Linked DNA regions of Homo sapiens. The protein of the gene in region 1 interacts with the protein of each later gene in a pairwise test. Each region holds a gene or a part of one and is shown in the gene's direction. Other genes may lie near its edges.

Region 1 (7,044 bases):
ACATATGTAGCAAATACAAAATATGGTCCATAATAATGTTAACAACAAAAATGTTACTTTTACTACAGTATTAACACTTTGTACATTGGAATTGAAAGTTTGAAAGAGCTATACTTTTAGAAAAACAACAAAAATAATTTTTATTTCTCTGTATTTGTAGACATTTTGAACGAGGAAATTAGCGTTGGTTTATGTTAAAGTATAGGCTGGTGTAGGACTTTATACTAGTTGTTAGTATTAGAGTAGGTATTCCATGTCATCATGTTAGTTTTTTTCTTCTATTCTTTCACTTCATGAGTACATTTAAATTATTAGGATTGGAGTCCTAGGCTCAACGTATACATCTAATAAAAGTTGTATATACATTTTTTAAACTGATGAATCTAAATATTCCCCAATCTATGAATACCCAACTTATCTACATTATTCATTTATTCATGCTTTTAATAAATGTTTAATAGCTTTTTTGCATACCTGACATTTAGCATATAAACACCCTAGAGAGTTAGTAGGATGCTTACGGTAAAGCCAGGTGTCTCCTGTGAGGCCATGTATCTTCTGACCATTTGTTTCTAAATAGCTGTTGTTCACAGGGTATGGGTGCTGTCTGTTGGTTGGGGGTGGTAATGATTGGCATTGGCCCTCTTTTCGCAGATATAGTACCCTGCATTTTGGTGAAAAAAATTGTCTACTTGGTAGTTGCAGTTAGAACATAACTTGCTGGGTCCTTGAATTAACTTTGGAGGGGTCAGAAAGAAGGGATGAGTGGTACAGGAAGAGGGAGGAGAGCTGTAGGATGACGAAATGTGGAAGCCAGGCTTATGATACCATTTCTTTCCGTATTTACTTGCCATGTACAGGCACAGTTCTAGGCTCTGGAAAGGAAAGGAGGACACTTGGTCACTGCCCTCATGCATCTTGCAAAGTCTAGGGGGTCACTGTCATTCCCCTTTCCTTGATATCATGGTCTGGAGGCAGTGTGATCTGTCAGACTCAGGACTAGCTGGGGCCTAGGGAAGATCAGAAAAGTCCTTCCCTGCTCTTCTCATCTCTACTTCTCCTAAGTGAAAGGAATATACAGTTGTTTTTAGAATATTTTAGCTGTTTCACCACAGTTTACTTCCCTCTACCCTTGAATGAGGAGTTGATGTGAGTACTGTCAGAGTATTTGGAGAGGCATACTAGGGCAAAAGGTGTCAAAGGCAAGGGGAACAGCTTGACTGAAAACCATGGAAACTGGGAAGGTGCTTAAGGGTCAGGCCAGTGAGTCATCCAGGTTTGATGAAGCTGGGGGCTAGTGGGAGGGGATGTTTAACTCAGCTCAAATAAGCTGAAGTAAAAGCAGGTTTGTCTTAGGGATTGCTAGGTCCCAGAGGAGCATGTATTTTAAGTATTGTACAGTATGCTTACATTAATTTTATTATTCGTCACAGTTAATGTTTAGTTTTTCATCTATGTTATTATCTAAAATAGGTTTATTTGTTTGGCTAAGCCTGGTAATGCAGTTTTCTTTGAATGTTTCTTTGAGAAAAGACATTCTGATTCCAAGTTGTAGGCAGCTAATTAAAAAAAAAAAAGAAAGAAAGAAACATCACCAGCTCCTAACATGGGATCTCCCTTGGTCACTGTTTTCAGTGACGTCCTAATTATCCTTTACTCATAAGCTCCTTGAAGCCTCTGGGATGTCCATGCCATTTTATGGTTTTTTGTTTTGGTTTGGTTTTTATTGTCTTTTCCTTCACCACAGTTTGATTTTTGGTGGTAGACTGCTAGACTTTAATAGCTAATGCTCTTATCCATTCCCCAATGATAGCATAAAGTAAAACATCCTATTGCAGATGGAATTCCAGGAGGGTAAACAATGCAGGTTCTAAAACGGGTGTCAGGACACAGTTTTAACTATTTTAACTTAGATTCTTTGGCTTAGGAAGACAAAGTTTTAAGAATTATGCAGATAATTATATCAGATGGCACTTTTGTAAACTTAAGAGCCACAGAGCACTTGGTCATCCTTTAAAAATTCAATTTGTTTTCTTATTTTTTTGCTCAAGTCCTGTGGATAATGTCACCTGTAAATGCTTTAACATTATTAACGTAAGTATTTTCATTTGTTAAGCCACTTATTATTCTGAATTAGGCATATATTAGCACACCGAAATGAGTAGTGTAACAGTCTATCTTTTTTCACTTTAGATGTTTTTTTCGTCTTCATTATCAGGACATTTTGCCTGTTAACAAACGAAGGTACTATTGTTTTATTTTCTATTAGAATATATATTTTAAAATCATGTGGGTTTGGATTTCAGAAAGGAGATGGGAGGAAACACATGGCCTTTTAAAGCCAAGGTCCACATTAACTTTCTCGCTTGATCCTTCAGTATTCCCCTGCCCAAAGACCTGCAGCTCTAGCCAACTGGGATAACTCACTGACCCTTAAGTAAAATGTGTACATGTCCACCTTTATGTTTCTCATCCCACCATTCCCCTTGCCTTTACCCACCTTTTCCCTGTTTACCTCTCCAGATACCTTTTACCAGAACCCAGTACAATAGTCCTCCTTTGCAAAGCCTTTCTTGTTTATGGTACCCTGGAGCAAGTTGTTGTCTCACAGGAGCTCATTGTCTTTAGTAATTACTCACGTATTTCCTGTGCCATTCCTTCTATGACCCTAGTGTCAAACTGTTTAAACTTTCGTTATTATTTACCACTTCACTCCTTTGTATCTTTCTCTCCAACATCAGAGATTATCACATATATTTGTTGATATGATATGTATCAGGAGATGACCCTCTTAATCTAGCATAATTTTGAATCATGATATATTGTGGTTGCTAAACATGAATAAGGCTTTAGACCACACTAAATTACAGAAGGTTTTTGTTTTTGTTTTTCATAGAGTGGGGATTTCACCATGTTGCCCTGGCTGCTCTTAAACTCCTGGTGTCATGTGATCTGCCCACCTCAGCCCCACAAAGTGCTGGGATTACAGGCACGACCCACTGTGCCCGGCCAGAGAGTTCTTTAAAAGAATGATATTTTTTATGAGTTGGTCATTAATTCAGTTGCCGTTCACTAAATTTAATGAGTAAATCAGGCCATTAAGTCATTTAGAAGCACAAAACAGATAAAAAATGAAGATTCCAAGACATATAAAATCAGATATGATTGTTCTCTTCATTGTCTGTGCAGAAGCATTGCCTTGTGTGGAAGTGAGGAGGGCAGTGTGGTATAGTGAATGGGAAGAATTCTGGACTGGGATTTAGATGACCTAGGTTTTAGTCCTGGTCTGCTGCTGATTTGCTATGAGAGTTTGGACAAGTTCCTTTGCCTTCCCAATTCTCAGCATTGTTCTCTGTAAATTAAGAGGGTTAAATTAGGTAATCTGTAAGGTCCTACCTGACTCTAAAAGTCTAGATATAGATATCACTTTCTTTATTCTTGGAATAGGTAAAGCAATTTCAAATAAATATACATTTATCAGGGATTCAGAAACCTCATTCTTTATAGTAAATAAAATTTTTTTCCAGCAAAACTGTTATCAACACTGCCTAAATAGTACAAATAACAGATTCTTATTTAGTTCTTTTTACTTTTTAAAATTTGCTTTATAAGAAATAGGTAGAGGAATAGAGCAACAAAAGTATACAGATATTTAAGCGTCTGTTTTGAAATAACATTGCTTTTGTTGCTGTAACACTATACCTGTTTAATTATCTGGATTCCTTGAATAACCAAGAGCCAACTATTTTATCGAAAACAGTAGCAATAATATTAAAGAATAAAATTATCTCAATTATATATTACATTTATTTTGTGATACTCAGCTTTTGAGGATGGCATATTATGTCGTTTTAGGCAAGTTATTCATGACTCTTTGGGTCTCTTATTTCTACCTGTGCTGTGAGAGGGTTGAACTACATAACCTTTAAGGCTTAGTTTATTGAATCCTTATAACATCTCCTAAAACAGCAGCCTAGATATCAGTCTAAACTCAGTCTTCATATTTTTCCAATAGAAAATGTGAAATTTTAACATACATCATTACAAATGATTTTCTATTATAAACACTTTATATATGAGCATTTTTTACTTAAGTTTGGAAGTATGGCTTAAGATTTTTGTAAAATTGATAAAAATGTGTAGGTCTTACAGAAGAGAAAACAAAAGAAACTAAATGGTTTTGGTATAAGTATGTTCCTTAACTAATCAAAATACAAATTTTTAAAATCTTTTGCCATATATTTTTCTTCATGAAATATTACCATTTGTAAACAAATACCTTAGAATGATGTTTTATTTATGATTATATTGTATTAGAGTAAAATTTTTGGAATTTGAAAGACAAATGCATTAGTCCACTGAGGAAATCAGTTACTCACTGTCAGGTATAATCACATAAAAGCATTTGTGATTTTGAACTGCAGAATTCCAAGAAACAAGCTTTTCTGTTTTCATTTTTATTCACTTATCAAACAAAAACTTGAGCACAGATGTGTGTTTTTAACTAATTTTATATATTTTTTCACACACGTACATAGCAGCATTATTCACAGTAGTTAAGAGGTGGAAACGACCCAGATGTCCAGTGTTGGATAAATGGATAAACGCAACGTGGTATATACATACAATGGAATATTATTCAGTCTTAAAAAGGAAAGAAATTCTGACATGTGCTACAACATAGATGAACCTTGTTACTAAGTGAAATAGTCTAGTCACAAAAAGATAATTATGTATGTGGCATTATGGTTCCACTTATATGGACCCTCTACTGTAGTCAAATTCGGGCTGGGCCCAGTGGCTCATGCCTATAATGCTAGCACTTTGGGAGGTGGAGGCTCAAGGATCACTTGAGCCCAGGAGTTCAAGACCAACATGAGCAACAAAAAAATATTAAAAATTAGCCAGGCCTGGTGCCATATGCCTCTAGTCTCAGCTATTGAGAAGGCTGAGGGAGAAGGATCACTTGAACCTGGGAGGTGAAGGCTTCAGTGAACCATAATTGTGCCACTGCACTCCAGCCTGGGTGACAGAGTAAGATCCTGGCCCAATAAATAAATAAATAAATAAATAAATAAATAAATAAAGTAGTCAAATTAATAGAAACAGAAAGTAGAAAGATGTTTGCTAGGGCCTGGGGAGAAGGAGAACTGATGACTTGTTTAATAGGTATAGAGTTTCAGTTTTTCAAGATAGAAAAGTTCCAGAGAGTCACAACAATGTGGATATGCTTAATGATACTGGACTGTACACTTAAAAATGATTAAGATGGTATATTTTATGTTATGTGCTTTTCTTTTTACCGCAATGCAAGAATTTCATATATTATAAAATTAATACATTAGCACCTGTAGAAATGATCTCTTTAGTGCTCAATGGTAAAACAGTCAATTCTTCTTTATTTTTTCAATTTAAAGTAAAATGACTTTATAAAGAGACTATATAGCTGTTGGCTTAAAAAAAATCCGAGTGGCTAGAAAGTAGCAAATAACAAGAAAGAAAACTTTAGCTTTGTATTTTGCTTTATGGTTTTACAAACAACTTCACAATAACTCTGGGAGATAGGCCTTGAAGGCATTTTTTCCATATATTTAGAAGTCTTTGAGATTTACAGAAGTTACGTAACTTTTGTAGGTGGTCACTATAGTGCAAATGAATGTGCATGGGTTGTTTTGTCCCTAGCCCAGTGCTCTTGTCTTCCCGTCACACTAGCCAAGCAAGAAAGAAATAATCAGGCCTGTAATCTGTGTTTCTCTTTTATTTTACCTTTTCTTTTATTGTTATCTACAGAGTATCACTGTTTAGAATACTAAATCTGAACAAAGTCATAATATTACCAAAGATCATCTAAAGAAAGACATCTAAATATTCAAAGGTGCTATAAAGGCTGGTGTATGAGATTAAACTACAAAGTGATATTTATTCATATACTATATACATACACAAATATGTGAATATATGTAGAATACAAAATGCGATATTTAGCCTGAGAAGATGGTTAACTTCCATATGACGGTGTAGGATTGTTTAAAAAAAGTGTATTCAAAGTGAATTATGAAAGTATTTGCCAAATTGCATAATACAAGAGCTAGAAACTTGTTAGTGAAAGGATAATGAAATTCATTCAGGACTAACCGTATTTTACCCAGTGGCTATTCAACTTATAGAACTGTTAGAGTCAAGGGAAGATTTTGGCTAAAGTTCCCATTAACTCACACACTCACACACTCTAATGGTATCTTCCATCTTTTTTGCTAAAGGGAAACACCATTTCAATTTTCTTAAAGCTTTGAGTTCATTGGCAGCATTGGGTGGATGGTTGAACTTGGAACTCCCAGATTAAGTTTTATGACTACTTTTTCTGAGAAGCCCAGCAAAATTGGAAACAAGGAGAGAAGGAAACTACTTGTATTCTGATCTTGGCTTCCAGGAAACGAGGCAACATTCTTCAGCTCTCTCTCTCGAGATATATTTTCTCCCTTGAAATTGTCTCCTTTTCCCTTATGAACTGGCTTTTATGAATAGGCCATTTTCTGAAGTCATGAATTTGGACATCACCTGCACTTGGGCATGGTGGCTCACGCCTGTAATCCCAGCACTTTGGGAGGCCGAGGCGGGTGGATCATTGAGGTCAGGAATTTGAAACCAGATATCGTCTGCACATGATGAAACTCACTACCATTTATTGAGCATTTAGTATAGGACCATTTTAAGATGCTGTAGTACTGTATTTGATACACCTTATATTTAATTTTCAGATCATCTCTATAAGTTAGATATTATTTAACCATCTATAGATGAAGAAATAGACTCAAAGCTACATAGCTAGAAAGTAACAGAGTTGGAATAGGATCAAGATCTTTCTCCTTCCCAACAGTGACCTTTTTATAATGCAACATAGCCTACTTATTTATTCAATAAATACCATTTTATTGCCCAGTAATAATAGTGAACATTTATTGGATGCTTACTAAGTGTCAGGCACTGTGTCCAGTGTTTTATATGTATTATCACATTTAGTCCTCATATTCCATTGGGCTCGGT
Region 2 (4,450 bases), on another chromosome or scaffold:
TTTGCAGAAATATAGTTCCTTTCATATTACAGTTGTTTTGCAAGCAATTTCCACATTTATAGGTGTAACAAAAGCTAAATGTTGTAAATGTTGTTGCCCTCAGGTATAACTAAAAACATTCCAGTAAATATATTTTTGACTGTGTAAGAGAATGTGTAGTAATTTTTTTGGCATTGGATTATGGAAATGGAAATTTTTAAACAGTGTGAAAAAACATGGTATGGCATCATAAAACTGGAGATAATAAAGTTATTGAAGAGTGTCATTGGAGTATTTGAAAATGACCAATATATAGCTGCCAGTCATGGTCCAGTCTGTTTTCTGTTAAACTCCAATAAAGAGAGACCAGTCAGTCCTAATGTGAGTAAATGAAATTTACAGGTAACTTACTTACTCCTTAATTTTATTTTAGTTAATAGCCTCTAACTTCCAACTATCTCATTTACCAAAAGTACAAAAAGTAGCAAAACCATCTATTAATACTTTGAATTTTATATCTTTGCATTTCCTGTTCATCCTTGAGGAGATGTATGTTGCACAATCAAATTTTGCATCAGCCAACAGTAATGAGTAGTAGAAAGTCAGGAACCTATGTGTATATATATATATATATATATATATATATATATATATATATATACACACAAACACACACACACACACACACACACACGCACACATATGATAATCAGTCAGTCGGTAACCAAATGCTAGAGAGTGACCATTAACCTAAGCCTGTTTTTATAATGAAAAAATGTGTTAACTTTAAAATATGCCAACCTCCTTGTGTCTTTTAAACAAGTCAGAGTGAAAATACATTGTCCCCTAAGGTGTGGGGAGAGGAAGCTTTATAATAAAATTAGTGATTCTGCAGAAACTTGTGCACTGGATATCTTGACAATATGAATATAAAACTCCCTAAATTAAAAATAGGGTTAATAGAAATTATCAGTATTTAAATAGGGAAAAATGATTTTATGTTTATTTTATTTAGGTTTTATTTCTTTGGTCATCTTAATGCAAAATGAATAAAGCATAGAATCTGGGTTTGGTGTTTTTTTGTCTGTTTTTAAAATTCTACAGGATTATTACTAGGAGGCAAAAAATGCTGTTTAGAATGGAAAAAATTTGAAGAGAGAAAGCAGACTGAGACACTCAAGACACCTGCAAGTTATCTAAGAAGATCTAAATAGAATTACTAAATTTTATAGTTTGCTTAGAGCATTTAGAAGGAGATAAAGGTCTTACATACTATAGTGTATATTGTCTTTGGTCTCTATGCTCTTTGTAAATGTCAATTAATATAAACAGCATCTGAACAGCTAATAAATCTTTTAAGTTAAGATACCCAGAAAAATGAGCATTTTTAGAATTTCAGTAGCTAATAATTCAGGAATGGAAATATTTTAACTGAATGGACAGAATCAGTCCTAACATTTGTATGTATGTCCTTTATTTGAATTGGAACTAGGCTCATAAGTGGTTAATTTTCCATTAGTTGATGTAGAAATCTGGTTTCTCCATAATATCTACAAGTGAAGATGAAGATTACTTCTCAAAAAGTATCCATATTTCCAGTGTTCCTTTTAATAAAATATGCCACTTTTAAATAAATAATTACAAAATGTAAAATTATAAAATTTTTAAATTTAAATAATAAGTAACAGTAAAATTTTTTGACAATATATATGTCACTGTCTTTGTAATTTAAACATATTGCTGCCTGGGATATGGGTAACAGAATTATCACTCATGGAACTTTGTAGTAGTGATGGCTTGGTTTGTAATTCATCATTTCATCTTTCTTGGTCTTGATTAATCCTGAAATCCTTAAAATGGCTGGCATGGTTATGACTTTATTGTGGTAACCTTGGAGATATAAGCCCTCTTACGATCAAAAACAGAAGAAAAAAATATATTGTTCAAACTGATGCCAGGCCTACCTTTATTCCCTCCCTTAATTACTTTTTTTCTCATTCAGCTCAGATCATCCTGCACTTGAAAAATGAAGTTTTACCACCATCAAAACTATCATTATTTAACAACAAGTGAAGATCAACAGAAAAATTCAAGTAGCTTTGCAAATACTAGTTGATACTCAGTGAAATCACGTCACTATTTTGATGCCTGAATCCATACCTTTGTGATTTATGTTTAATTACAGAAGCCTATTGCCTTGCAGCAATTTTGTTGTTATAATACTGATTAATTGGTTACTCCTTCTTATTATAACTCAGTAATACCTGTGGTCATTTGGTTCCTCTATCCTGACAAAGTTCACTGGAAATTGCCCTCAGATTTTATAAACTGGGGGATTTCTTAATTAGATAAAAGTTCATTACTGAAGATGGAATATTATATAAGATGGAGGAAGGGTAATTAATAGACATGAGATATAGAAATACTTTGTTAGCCCTGCTATAGATTGCCTATTGTAGTCTTTCTGTGCATTTCAATAGTCTGTATTAGGAAATTATAACTTCAGCACTTTTGATAGCAAAAATTGGCATCTTTCAATTCTGTATAGTATGTGACTATCCTGTAAATGATAATATGTGTACAGACTGAGAAGGCAGGAATATAAAGTAATTGAAATCTCTCATTGCCGGTATACTCTAAAACATGCTTGATGCCTTGTCAGCATCATTGCACACATTGACTCTGTATTTACATCTGTATATACACTATGATTAGAAAATATGCAAGAAATTGTTTTTCCATGTTAAGAACAAATGCCATTAGAAGATGTCCCCTTAATTGTATTGTCAGAGTATTACTATGTCAAGGATGACTGTTCTGTTAACCTAATTTTGTGTTTTCACATGGAAATGTGATTGGACTCCATTTTTCTGTGAGTTGAGAGTAAGAGCATAAGTCAGTTTGAAAGCATTTACAAGTTTGTTTTAGAATGTAGTAAGGGCTGAAAGGTGCTCTACTTCTTAACTTGTTTTTTCCATGTTGTAGACAAATGAAATTTGTCTAAATGCTTTTGTCTAAAAATGCATTTGTCTAAATGCTTTAGATTGATGTAGGGTTTAGATCCTCTTTAATACTTTGAGATAGTCTTATTCTGATTTTTTTTTTCTTCTGGAAACCAAGTAGAATTAGGGATGGGAATACAAATGCATTTATTCTGGCTTCTGTTTTATTCCAAGAAGCTTCTTGGAACAAATCAGTAGGAATTGAAAAGAAAGCATGACCAACCCAATTACAGGGGATAAATGTAAGCTTGTTAAAGTAAGCACCACACCATGTTTCTGTCTCCCCAGCACCCAGCACAGTGCTGTGAACCTTGGCAGATGCTAGATAAATGTGTGTTGAATGAATGTGCCTATGAAGCCACAAAGATGCCACATGTTAGTATATCAGTGAGAGGTGACTCCACAGTGCTCTCTGGAGAAGCAATATGAGTGACTGAAGAGTGGGGCCTTTTGCTTTTGCCTGGATATAGGGGTGCTCTTCTACTGTAATTGGGTGTGGAAAAACTCTGGCTTTATGGTATTCCATTAGGTTCTTTTCATTTAAAGTAGTCTTAAAATCAAAGTATCCAATATTTTAAAGCCACAAAGTAGATTACATAATTAGCAGAGATTTTAGTCAGTAAAATGTTAGAAATCAAACTATAAGAAAATTCAAGTCCTTTATTTTGTGTCTTGGGTATATGTCATTATTTTAAATTCCACACTCCCTTATTTAATCACTTTGGTAAGTGCCTTTGATGTTTTGAAATGTATAGTGGGAGATGAGCAAATGTAAATGTCATGTGCCCTGTTCCCTAGCTTCTCAATTCCTCATAACCATTTTTACCAGTGTTGCAAAGTTTAGACCTTTGTGTTAATATCAGAAGTGTATTTGTAGCCCCTCCATAGTGAACAATGAAATAAACTATTTCATAGAAAACAAAAATTAAGCACTTTGGCTTATTCAATATGTGTTACCTGTTGCCTTAACTTCAAAGCATAGCTTATTTAACAATAACATCTGGATAATCACCCCTGATTTAATCTATCCTATTTTCCCAATAAAGTGCATGGAGGAAAAATAAGAAAAAGAAAAGGCATTCTTTCACCAAAAATTATGCCTGATACTGACAAAATCTAAGAAGAATTTCTTAGTGATTTTTAACTCAGTAAAGCAATGTCTTTACCTCAGTCCACAGTGTCTGTAGGAGAGGAAGGCAGGCAGTTTTCTCTTAAACTTACATGTCCCAATCAGAAAACCTGATCCTGTCCCTCAGCTGCCTGGTGCTTTAGGCAACCAGAGTAATGTTCATTCTCTCTAGCCTCCCTCCACCCACACACTAAACTGTGTCTTTTTGTTTTTGTTTCTGAGACAGGATCTTGTTCTGTCTCCCAGGCTGAAGTGCAGTGGTGCGATCACAACTCACTGCAGTCTCAGACTGCTGGGCTCAAGCAATCCTTCCACCTCAGTTCTCCCAAGTGGCTGGGAC
Region 3 (4,784 bases), on another chromosome or scaffold:
GGCAGGGTTAGTAGCTGACCCTTCCGTGCTAGCGCTTCCCTCAAGGCTTTCTTCACCAAGGAAACAAGGAGTCCCTGTTACCCAGGCTTTCTCAGGGACATCCCCTGGCCCCACTCCGAGGGGCAGCATGATTTCGGGAGCCCCAGGAGCCCTGGCTGTGGGTGTGTGGGTGCATCCAGGGCGTGCGGCCTGCTCCTGGGCACTTGGGGCTGTACCCAGCTTGGGTGTACCCAGATGTTTGGTGGGTTTGGGGAGCTATATTCTTGAGTATTTTCAATTTTATTTCTTTTTTTTTGAGACAGGGTCTTGCCGTTTTCACTGTTTTACACAAAACTTCCCCTAGTTTTAAAAGGAATTAGATGTTCAGGTACAGAATTTTGAAAATGCAAAAAAGTAGAGAAAAACACTTAGACTCTCAGATTTAAAATCCTCTTTAATGTTTCGTGCTGTTATATAATTCTGAGGATTTGGCCGCAGCTGTGGTTATGTGGACATTTCTGCCTTTTCCCTCCTGCTTATCCCGGAAGCATCTTGTAAACCTGCTCACTATACAGTGTCCCTTCCTTCGTCATGTCCCTGTTTTGAGCCGTTTTCGGCTGTTTTCATTTTCTTTTCTTATAACCAGTGCTGCCGTCACCATCTTTGCCCTCATGTCACGTGACTTCCCTAGGACAGTGTTTGCCGCTGTCAGTACCCCCAGAATCTCACAGTGAACCAAATGTATTTACGCCCTGAGTGGGGCTCCCCCAGAGGTGATCTGTCCCTGGAGGCGGCGAGCGTGCTGTGAGCCGGGAGTGCGGCGCGGCCCGGGGAAGGCCCCCAGCCCCAGGACTCCCCTTGGACCACGGTCCGAGGCACTGACATGTGCCTCTGGGCTCTTGAATTGAGCCTGCGGATCTGAAGCTCGGGTGGGAGCTGGGTGCTTTCCCGTGTCACGTGTGGTACACTGATCTGCCTTTAACATTGACTTTATCTTAGTCTGAGGAAGATGATATTGAAAGAAGGAAAGAAGTTGAAAGCATCTTGAAGAAAAACTCAGATTGGATATGGGATTGGTCAAGTCGGCCGGAAAATATTCCCCCCAAGTGAGTGTGTTCTCAGTGTCACGGGGGCACCCCTTGACAGAGGACACATCAGCTGACACGTTTCTTCCCGCCTCAGGGAGTTCCTCTTTAAACACCCGAAGCGCACGGCCACCCTCAGCATGAGGAACACGAGCGTCATGAAGAAAGGGGGCATATTCTCTGCAGAATTTCTGAAAGTTTTCCTTCCATCTCTGCTGCTCTCTCATTTGCTGGCCATCGGATTGGGGTAGGTGATGTGACTGTGTGACTCCTGTCATGGCATGTCGTGGGGCGATTCTGGGTTGCAGTGATTTATTCGTAACCTGTTTCCTGAAGTCCAGATCATCAGTTACAGCTTGGTGCATTTTCACAAACACCCACGTAGTCACTGTTCAGGTCCAGAAACCACCAGCCTGCAGCCCCCAAAGGCCCCAGCACAGGCGCCCTGTGGTGCTGCTGTCTGGCCTGACGAGTCTGCCTGTTGCTCACTGAATATAAACGGAGTCAAAGCAGGGCTTCTTAGGTCTGACCTCTTTGTCCTGTGTGTAGGTGAAAGCAGTCTCATTTCTGTGTAGTACTGTGGCGGGAATGCACCCAGCTCTGCTGTAGGTGGAGGGTCTCAGTTACCTGCTGTACTTCCTCCAGACAGGACTGTTGTTCTAGTAACTCTCAGCAATGAAGGAACCAATGCAGTCTCCGACTTTACTGGCTTGAGTTTCGCTCTTGTTGCCCAGGCTGAGTGCAGGGGCGTGATCTCGGCTCACTGCAGCCTCTGCCTCCTGGGTTCAAGCGACTCTCCTGCCTCAGCCTCCTGGGTAGCTGGGATTACAGGTGCCCACCACCAGGCCTGGCTAATTTTTGTATTTTTAATAGAGACGGGGCTTCGCCACGTTGCCCAGGCTGATCTCGAACTCAAGGGATGGCTCACCTCGGCCTCCAAAGTGCTGGGATTACAGGCGTGAGCCACCGCGCCTGGCCTTTCCTGGCTGCTTATACTCACTCACCCTGCAGAAAACACAGAGACCAGGCAGGCGCCGCTGTGGGTTCTGAAGAGCGTTCGCCGCAGCGGTGGTGAAGAGCCAGAGCGGGAAGCCAAAACGGCTCCTCCTCGGGCTGGTCCCAGCCTCTCAGCGGGGAGGAGGGCTCTAGTCCTGGCGTGCAGACAGTGTTCTGTGGCTGCCGTGTGTTGGACAGACTGGAAAGACCGGAATGCCACTGGGGGCAGGTGGGTTAGGTAGGTTGGCCAGAGGGCTCACATCTGGGGTTGAAGGAAACGGGATAAAAGCCACTGAGTTTCCTGGGCCGGGACCTGAGCGCTGCCCGTGTCTCCACCTCGCCCTCCCGTGTGCGTGGCTTTCTCCTAGCTCTTGGGCACATTCTCACGTCCCCCCCATAACCCGTCACCTTCATTTCTGCTGGTGCTTTTGGGAGTCAGACCTACAGACTGCATCAGCATCACCAGGCAGTTTGCTTTCTGGAGCCTTTTCCAGAACTGTCAAGCAGACTCTGGGGGCAAGGCCTCGGGATCCTCATTTTAAATACAAGGTTTAAGCCCTTCGTTTCAGGATGGATTTCTGCAGCCACTACTTCCCAGCTACTGTCCTTCGTCCTGCCCGGGTTTTCAGAGCCTGATGCTGCCACTGGCGACCCACACCCCCTCAGCTGCTTTTCAGAACCACACGATAAAATCTGCCCCGAAAGCTGCTGCAGCACTGTCTGCGCTCACAGTGCCCACCACACCACCGCCCACAGGCCAGGCCAGCCAGGCTTCCGATTCTGCCCTTTCCTGGAGACCCATCCTCCTCCCTCCGGGAGTGATGCCCGCTGGTCAGCTGGAGCGAGCCTCTCTATTGCCGAAAAGCCTTTTCTGACACTCCTGCATCTTTAGTTTGGGACATCTCTCCCACTACCAAACTTAAACCACATGAGGGCAGGGGCTTCATTTTTAAGCAGTTGGCTTTGGTGAGGCTGGTGGTGATGAACTAGCAACACCATCTTGCCCTGGTAGGTGACTTCCCCCAGCACTGAGTTGGAACAAAGCAGAAGCTTTCTGTGTGGAAACAGCATTCGGTTTGGTGATCCTTCTATGTAAGAATACGATCTGATGTTTTCTAAGTTAATTAATACAAAATACATATTGATAAAACACTAGATAAAAGATCACAGATAGATTCATTACAAAATTTTTATAATGGGTATAAAATCACCAGTCCCCTTGCATAAGCTCTAACCACAGTGAGCTACCCTGTTTCAGCTGTAACACAGTCTCCTGTGAATCACAAGATACATTAACTACTGATAATTTTTCTGTGAAGGATCTATATTGGAAGGCGTCTGACAACCTCCACCAGCACCTTTTGATGAAGAACTGGAGTCTGACTTGGTTCGTTAGTGGATTACTTCTGAGCTTGCAACATAGCTCACTGAAGAGCTGTTAGATCCTGGGGTGGCCACGTCACTTGTGTTTATTTGTTCTGTAAATGCTGCGTTCCTAATTTAGTAAAATAAAAGAATAGACACTAAAATCATGTTGATCTATAATTACACCTATGGGATCAATAAGCATGTCAGACTGATTAATGTCTACTGTGAAAATTTGGTAGTAAATTTTCATTTGATATTAGATATAAATATCTGAATATAAATAATTTTAATATACTAGTCATGATGTGTGTTGTATTTTAAAAATTATCTGCAACCTTAATTCAGCTGAAGTACTTTATATTTCAAAAGAATGAATAACATTGATAATAAAATCGCTACTTTAAGGGGTTTGTCCAAAATAAATATTGTGGCCTTATATATCACACTATTGTAGAAAGTATTATTTAATTTAAATGGATGCAGGTTGTCTACTAAAGAAAGATTATATATAACTATGCTAATTGTTCATAATCAACAGAAACCAAGATAGAGCTACAAACTCAGCTGTACAGTTCGTACACTAAACTCTTCTTGCTTTTGCATTATAAGGAATTAAGTCTCCGATTATTAGGTGATCACCCTGGATGATCAGTTTTCTGCTGAAGGCACCTACTCAGTATCTTTTCCTCTTTATCACTCTGCATTGGTGAATTTAATCCTCTCCTTTGTGTTCAACTTTTGTGTGCTTTTAAAATCAGCTTTATTCTAAGCAAATCTGTGTCTACTTTAAAAAACTGGAAATGGAAAAAAAAATAAATCTTTGCCAAATCCTTCAGATTACTGTATTTACATATGGTTTAAAATCAGACGTCATGATAGCTTCTTAATGAAACCAGGACTGGTCCCTATTTTGACATTATCTTTCCTACAGCAAACTTTTTAGAAAGGCTGCCTGCCGCCTTGATGTTTCACCTTTCCACGCTTAATTCGGGTGTTAAATCTAACGTTTTCATTTGTAAAAATCTTTGTTGATGCTACCTTGGAAGCAGTCATCTCTCAGTCTTACATTTGGAGAATGTGGATGGCATGACATCAGAATTCCTTTATATAATTTAACTTCAGAATAGTCTGAGATCATCGAAGCACGATGGTCAAGGGAATTCCGTTTTTGTTTTAGAGCAAATATGTTTGCTGTTTGTCTTTCATCACAAACATCAGTGGAGTTTCAGCACCTTACAGAGCTCAGTGAACCCCCTGGTCACCATCAAAGTTAGCACACAACAAAGCCAACCACGTGTCCCCCTCACAGATGACAATGGCTGAACTCTGAGTGAAACCACCTGTATGGCCGGGCAC
Region 4 (6,205 bases), on another chromosome or scaffold:
GGGTGACCTAAGACTAGGGCAGGGCCAGGCTTGGCCCTGGGAAGCAGGTGAAAGAGACTTTGCCTGAGATTGTGGTGCTATGTGTAAAGGTGACTCCGGCACTAGAAAGAGGAGTGGGGAGGCCAGGTGTGAGGGAAGAGCCCAGGCCCAGAGGCCCAGCCCAGCTGTGGCTCCCGCTTGCTGGGTGATGCCGGGCAAGGCCGGGCCCTTGCTGTCCATCTGAGGCCCCATCTGTGCAGGTGAGGGGGCTGAGAGGATCAGGGCAGCCTCTAGAAAGACACCACACACTCAGCCGCTCAGCTTGGGGCAGCCACCTGCCCCTGCGGGGGAAAGAGACAGAAAAGCGGCCTGGCACCTGGGCCCCAATGCCCTTGCCCGACACCCACCTGCTTACCAGGTAATGGCCACACACCCTTCCCTGCTTAGACAGCTCCAACAAGGTTGGTCCTCCCTTGGCTTCTCAGCCCCAGATCCTCACCCTCCACATCATCACACCCCTGCTGTGGGTCCCACAGAGGCAGCAATTGTCTGTTCCCACTCCCTACTGGTCTGCAGGCCCTGGGACCTGGGCCCTGTCTCTCTTCTCTCCTGGTTTCCATTATATCCAAAGTGCCTTGCATATGGTTGGTCCTTATAAAATGTTGAAGAATGAATGAATGAATGAGTGAGTGAATGAATGAATGAATGGAGTGCCTCAAGGCAGACGGATGCATTTTGGAACCCCTGGGGTGTGGCTGGGATTCTGGCTTGCCCAGGTAACAGCCTGAGGGTGAAGAAGCCCTTCCTTGTGCCCTGGGGCTTCCCAGCTCCTCCAGCCCAGGCAGCTCCTCCAGCCCAGGCAGCTCCTCCAGCCCGCGGCCCCGCCTTGTCCACCGGGCACCCACTCAGTCAGCTCCTCCAGGCCAGGGCCCTGACTTGTCCACCAGGCACCCACTCAGCCAGCTCCTCCAGCCCAGGGCCCCGCCTTGTCCACCGGGCACCCACTCAGCCAGCTTCTCCAGCCCGGGGCCCCGCCTTGTCCACCAGGCACCCATTCAGCCAGGACAGGGCCCAGGGCTGGGCTGGTGCAAGCCTGGAGTACGGTGCTGTGCCGCCCTAAGCCAGGCGCTTCCCTCTCTGAGCCACCACACCCTTGTGTGTTCCTAGGGGCCCAGCATAAGGTAGAGGGGGCAGAAGGTGGGGGAAGGGGCATGAGCAAGGAACTTCGGCTCCAGACAGAAGCCTGGGCTTGTCCCCGTGCCGGGTTTCCTGGTTCAGGGAGCAGGGGGCAAGGCTAACGGGGTGGGGCGGTGGTTTTCCCTGCCCCAGGCCCCTTCGTCGCCTCTCCCAGGTGTCATTTCTGCTGCCAATACCCTGATGGTACCAACCAGGCCCAGGGCCCCAGCTCCAGGGGCTGAGTGGGAGGGGTGGAGTGGGGGAGGGCCCAGGCCCTAGAGAACAGAGGAGGGAGGAGGGGGGAAAGGCTGGCGGTGATAGTGAGAAGTGCTTGAGACCCCACCAGGTTCTGCCCCAGAACGTGCCTGGAGCTCTCTGGCCCTCACTTCCTCACCAGTGAACAAGCACTGGGCAGGGACTGACATGAGGGGCCACAGTGTCTCCTCTCCACATTCCAATCCCTGGCTCTGAGGCTCTAGTCAGGTCACTGCCTACAAGAAACCCTCCCTGACTGCACTGTCCCCAGAAGCTCAGCTGTCCAAGGGCTCCTGGCATCAGAAGCACCCGCTTTCTCCTGAAAGTGAACTGTGTAGGGCTGCTGTTCATGCTTTTGCTAGGACCACCTGGGATGGGCAGCTCATCCTCGTGGGCAGCCCTGCCAGGTCAGAGGCCCTCATCCCACAAAACTGGAACCCCGCTCCGGCTCCCATGCCTGGCAGGGACGCAGCCACAGTGATGCCTGAGGTGTCCCACGGGGGTGAGCCAGGTGTGCAGGGCCCTCCTCCAGCCCCAGGTGTGGGGAGCACACTCCCCCATGGCCCCACACTCAGAACCCACTCTCAGGCCACCTGACATCCCGGACCCTCCAGCTCCACCAGACCCAGCAGGAATTCCAAACCTGTTTTTCCAGCAGCTCTCATGCCCCTGGCCACAGTGAGTCACCCTCCCCACCTGCCATGCCCACCGAGTCATCACCCCGCCACCAAGCCCTGAGCTCTGCCTCCCAAGGCCCCTGGAAGCACCTTCCCCCAAGCTGCCCATGCCTCTCACTGTGACCCATGGACACAGGGCCTTGGAGCTGGAGGAAACCTCCTCTCTCTGGGTGGGGGCATGGACCTTTGGGTCACCTGCCTTGGCAAGTGAGACTACACACGTCCCCACCAAGCTCCAGCCAGGGCCAGGCACCAGATGCAAATGTGGGGCTGCCCCAGGGGGCTCCCGCCTGCACCCTGGTTTCTAAAGGCACCACCAGGCAACCCCTCCTGTAGGTGGATCCTCCAGGCCCCGGCACTGTGTCAGGGAGAGCCCGGCCAGGAGCATTCTCAGGAGACATTTGCTGGGATCCCCGGCATCTGAGACGTGGGGCTCAGCAAGGGAGAGATGCCGGGAGGAAGGGCCAGAGGGTCTGTCTCAAGCCCAGGCCTGACTGGCCCCAGTACCCACGGTGCTCCCAAAAGCCTCAGCCCAGCCCAGGACCACCCTCCTCGGAACCGGCCCTGCCCTGCCCTGGGCCTGTTGTTGTCTGTTCATCAGCCACGTGGCAGCGGCGGCAGGAGGCTGGGCCCAGGGCTGACCTCCATCTGTGCCCCGGCTCCCACTCACCTTCAGCCTAGCCAGGGCAGGGGCAAAGCAAGTCTGTGGGCCCCTCCACACCACTCAGGTGGGTGCTGCCCAGCACAGGCGAGCGGCAGAGCGTGCTGGGCTGAGCAGGTGGATGGGGGCCCCAAGAGGTGGGCTCCTGCGCGAGGCGGTGGGTGCTCAGAGACCCCGTCTCCAGGGAAAGAAAGTCCCTCCTGTGAGTATAAAGAGGGTGAAGGCGGGGACTGGCCTCCACTCAACGGGCAGCAGACCAAGAACCTGCTTTGAGGCCCTGGGTGCTGGGGCCCAGCCCCAAAGAGTTCACGATTTTGGGGAGACTGGAGCCGGGACACCTAGAGCAATAGTTACAAAGTGGCCGGGATGGCGCTGCCCCCAACGTAGCAGGAGGGGCCTGGAGAGTGGGGGAAGGAATCCCACGGGGAGGGCTTCTGGGGCCCTGGAGGGCGGGAGGCAGGGCTGGTGGAGACCAGGAGGGCTCAGTCTCTCCCTGCACAACGCAGGGTGGAGTTGCTGCCTCCACAGCCCGGGCCTTCTGCCCACAGGGCTCCCCAGGCAACTTCGAGGGCCGGGTCCTCACAGTCCTCACTCTGTCCAGTGCTCACCTCACTGCTGCCCCAGCTGCCCTCCCTGCCTCGGAGTGGCCTCTGCCTCTGCCTCTGCCTCACACACCCCATCAGCCCACAGCCACCCCGAGCCCTTGCAGCTCAAGGACCTTCTGCATCCCCGGCAGCAACCCTGAGCCCAGAGCCAGGAGAGTAGGACCAGCACCTGCCCTTCCTACCTCCCCTGCCCTGGACACCCACGGGCACCCACAGGGCACCGGGCACAGGCTGCAACTCTATTGAGGGAACTATGGGGGGAATGCAGGGACAAAGACACAGGATGGTGATGGATGGTGGGGGGTGGGGGGCGGGGGGTAGCGGGTGGCAGGTCAGAGACAAAGTGACCCAGGAACGGACGGCAGCGAGAGAACAAGACCCACAGAGACAGAGAAGTGAAAGTGGGAGAGATGGAGGCACAGCAGCAGGAACAGCAGGGCCAGGAGGCCACTGGGCCCCGTTGCGGAGGGCAGACCTCTGCCTGGCGGGGGGCAGCAGGGGCAGCGCCCAGCGACAGCCAGGCTGGTGGGCGTGGGCCAGGCAGGGTGGGGCAGGTGCCCGTCCTGGGCTGACGCTTGCACAGAGCCCTGCAGAATGCCGCTGGCTGGCGGACTGCCCACCCCCGCCCAGCCCGTGCCTATAAGGCCTTGGCAATGCAGGGGCCCGCACTGCTCCCAGACGACATCAGAGATGAGGACAGCATTGCTGCTCCTTGCAGCCCTGGCTGTGGCTACAGGGCCAGGTGAGGGGCTGGGCCAAGGGGACGGGCGGGTGGGCGGCTGTGGCCTGTGTGGTCACCAAATACTAGGAGCCTGGAGCTGACGACATCTAGGCACAGAGAACCCCGACACTGTGGGTGCTAGACTCTTCAAATTTAAAACAACATGGAGCCCGAATCTTAACGAGTGTCAGATTTACAATGTTTCAGAATCTGAGGATCTTAGAACTGACTCCTGGAGTCACGGACCCTGAGAGAGTGGAGCAGGGGGTTGTCTTGAGATGCTTCTCACTGGGAGAGCGGCCATCTAGTCCCTGCCACCAGCCCCTCCCGGTCCCCAGGTCTCCCCCAGCACAGCCCAGGACAGCCCAAAGGCCACCAAGCCCTTCCTGTCATAGGCTCAGAGCAGCCAAGCTGGCTGCCCCCGGGGCCTTAGCTCCGTCAGGCCCTCAGAAACATAGCCATCTCCTCCAGGGACATCCCCTGGGGTGGGGACAAGAGCCAGTGTCCTCTTGGCAGTCGCAGAGCTCCCTGAGACCTTGGAGGAAAGGCTTGCAACACACCCTAGACAGGGGCAGGGCAGGACACCTCTTCCAAGCCGGCCCAGGCTGGAATACATGTCCCCTGAGGCTGCACTCAGGGCACATGCCCTGCCAGGACCCAGAGCCCGGGTTTGGGGGCCTAGGGCAAGGGCAGCAGGGCCTCTGTCCAGGAGGGGTCTCTGCAGGTGGGGGAGCAGGCCCTGCTGAGTCACCAGGAGGCCTCTGTTGGGCCCGCTGAGCCGGACTCCCTCCCCGCCAGCCCTTACCCTGCGCTGCCACGTGTGCACCAGCTCCAGCAACTGCAAGCATTCTGTGGTCTGCCCGGCCAGCTCTCGCTTCTGCAAGACCACGAACACAGGTGGGTAGCATCTGTCCAGGTGTCCCTGGGGCTGGGGGACATCCCTGGCTGTTGTGGGTGTTGGCTGGAAGGTTGTGGGGAGGTGGGGGGCAGAGGTGGCTGCCTGGCCTGACCACACTCACCTGTGCCCAGTGGAGCCTCTGAGGGGGAATCTGGTGAAGAAGGACTGTGCGGAGTCGTGCACACCCAGCTACACCCTGCAAGGCCAGGTCAGCAGCGGCACCAGCTCCACCCAGTGCTGCCAGGAGGACCTGTGCAATGAGAAGCTGCACAACGCTGCACCCACCCGCACCGCCCTCGCCCACAGTGCCCTCAGCCTGGGGCTGGCCCTGAGCCTCCTGGCCGTCATCTTAGCCCCCAGCCTGTGACCTTCCCCCCAGGGAAGGCCCCTCATGCCTTTCCTTCCCTTTCTCTGGGGATTCCACACCTCTCTTCCCCAGCCGCAACGGGGGTGCCAGGAGCCCCAGGCTGAGGGCTTCCCCGAAAGTCTGGGACCAGGTCCAGGTGGGCATGGAATGCTGATGACTTGGAGCAGGCCCCACAGACCCCACAGAGGATGAAGCCACCCCACAGAGGATGCAGCCCCCAGCTGCATGGAAGGTGGAGGACAGAAGCCCTGTGGATCCCCGGATTTCACACTCCTTCTGTTTTGTTGCCGTTTATTTTTGTACTCAAATCTCTACATGGAGATAAATGATTTAAACCAGTGTGGCTGTGGCTGTGCTATTCTGGGACGGAGGAGCTGAGGGGCGGATATCAGGCCACATAGGTACCCTGAGCCTCCAGCACATGTCCCCTGGGGCCAGTCGTGGGGTGATGCCTGAGGTGGCACCGTCCGTCCCCACCCTGGAAGGGGCAGGCTGCTCAGATGCCTCCCACCGCCCCAGAGGTGGAGGGCACTCCTGGGGTGAGGCCTGAGTAGGAGCACAGGGTAAGAGGGCTCGCAGGCCCCTCCCACACATAGCACCTAGGGGAGAAGGAACCCCTCAGCCTTTCACCCCGGGTCATGTCTCTGAGACCGGGGTTCAGGAGCCTCCAGAGAGGCCGGCTTGGGACACCCCAGGCCCAACCCCAGCTTTGGAGCCAAGTAGGCACTGACTACCTACAGCCATCGCCAAGGCAAGTCCAGCTGCCCAGGGAAAGTTCAGCCACCATCCAGGAAAGTCCCATGGACCCTATCTATGGGAACCCAGCAGCCCCTTGGCCAGACCTCACCAGGGTGAAGCTAGACTGG

What was found.
Region 2: the proteins of ELOVL4 (region 1) and VAMP4 interact in binary tests that used the Homo sapiens proteins (3 or more experiments, as listed by UniProt).
Region 3: the proteins of ELOVL4 (region 1) and BNIP3 interact in binary tests that used the Homo sapiens proteins (3 or more experiments, as listed by UniProt).
Region 4: the proteins of ELOVL4 (region 1) and LY6D interact in binary tests that used the Homo sapiens proteins (3 or more experiments, as listed by UniProt).

Annotation. Positions count from the first base shown.
Region 1 is NC_000006.12:79,937,547-79,944,590, reverse strand, and holds part of ELOVL4 (very long chain fatty acid elongase 4), read left to right. Parts: intron 1-7,044. UniProt on the Homo sapiens protein: Catalyzes the first and rate-limiting reaction of the four reactions that constitute the long-chain fatty acids elongation cycle.
Region 2 is NC_000001.11:171,699,616-171,704,065, reverse strand, and holds the end of VAMP4 (vesicle-associated membrane protein 4), read left to right. Parts: 3' UTR 1-3,906; downstream 3,907-4,450. UniProt on the Homo sapiens protein: Involved in the pathway that functions to remove an inhibitor (probably synaptotagmin-4) of calcium-triggered exocytosis during the maturation of secretory granules.
Region 3 is NC_000010.11:131,967,165-131,971,948, reverse strand, and holds the end of BNIP3 (BCL2/adenovirus E1B 19 kDa protein-interacting protein 3), read left to right. Parts: intron 1-415; exon of another isoform or gene 416-978; coding exon 979-1,085; exon of another isoform or gene 1,086-1,161; coding exon 1,162-1,311; exon of another isoform or gene 1,312-2,294; coding exon of another isoform or gene 2,295-2,322; intron 2,323-3,379; coding exon 3,380-3,425; 3' UTR 3,426-4,265; downstream 4,266-4,784. UniProt on the Homo sapiens protein: Apoptosis-inducing protein that can overcome BCL2 suppression. May play a role in repartitioning calcium between the two major intracellular calcium stores in association with BCL2.
Region 4 is NC_000008.11:142,784,355-142,790,559, reverse strand, and holds LY6D (lymphocyte antigen 6D precursor), read left to right. Parts: upstream 1-4,020; 5' UTR 4,021-4,043; coding exon 4,044-4,095; intron 4,096-4,872; coding exon 4,873-4,971; intron 4,972-5,103; coding exon 5,104-5,339; 3' UTR 5,340-5,678; downstream 5,679-6,205. UniProt on the Homo sapiens protein: May act as a specification marker at earliest stage specification of lymphocytes between B- and T-cell development. Marks the earliest stage of B-cell specification.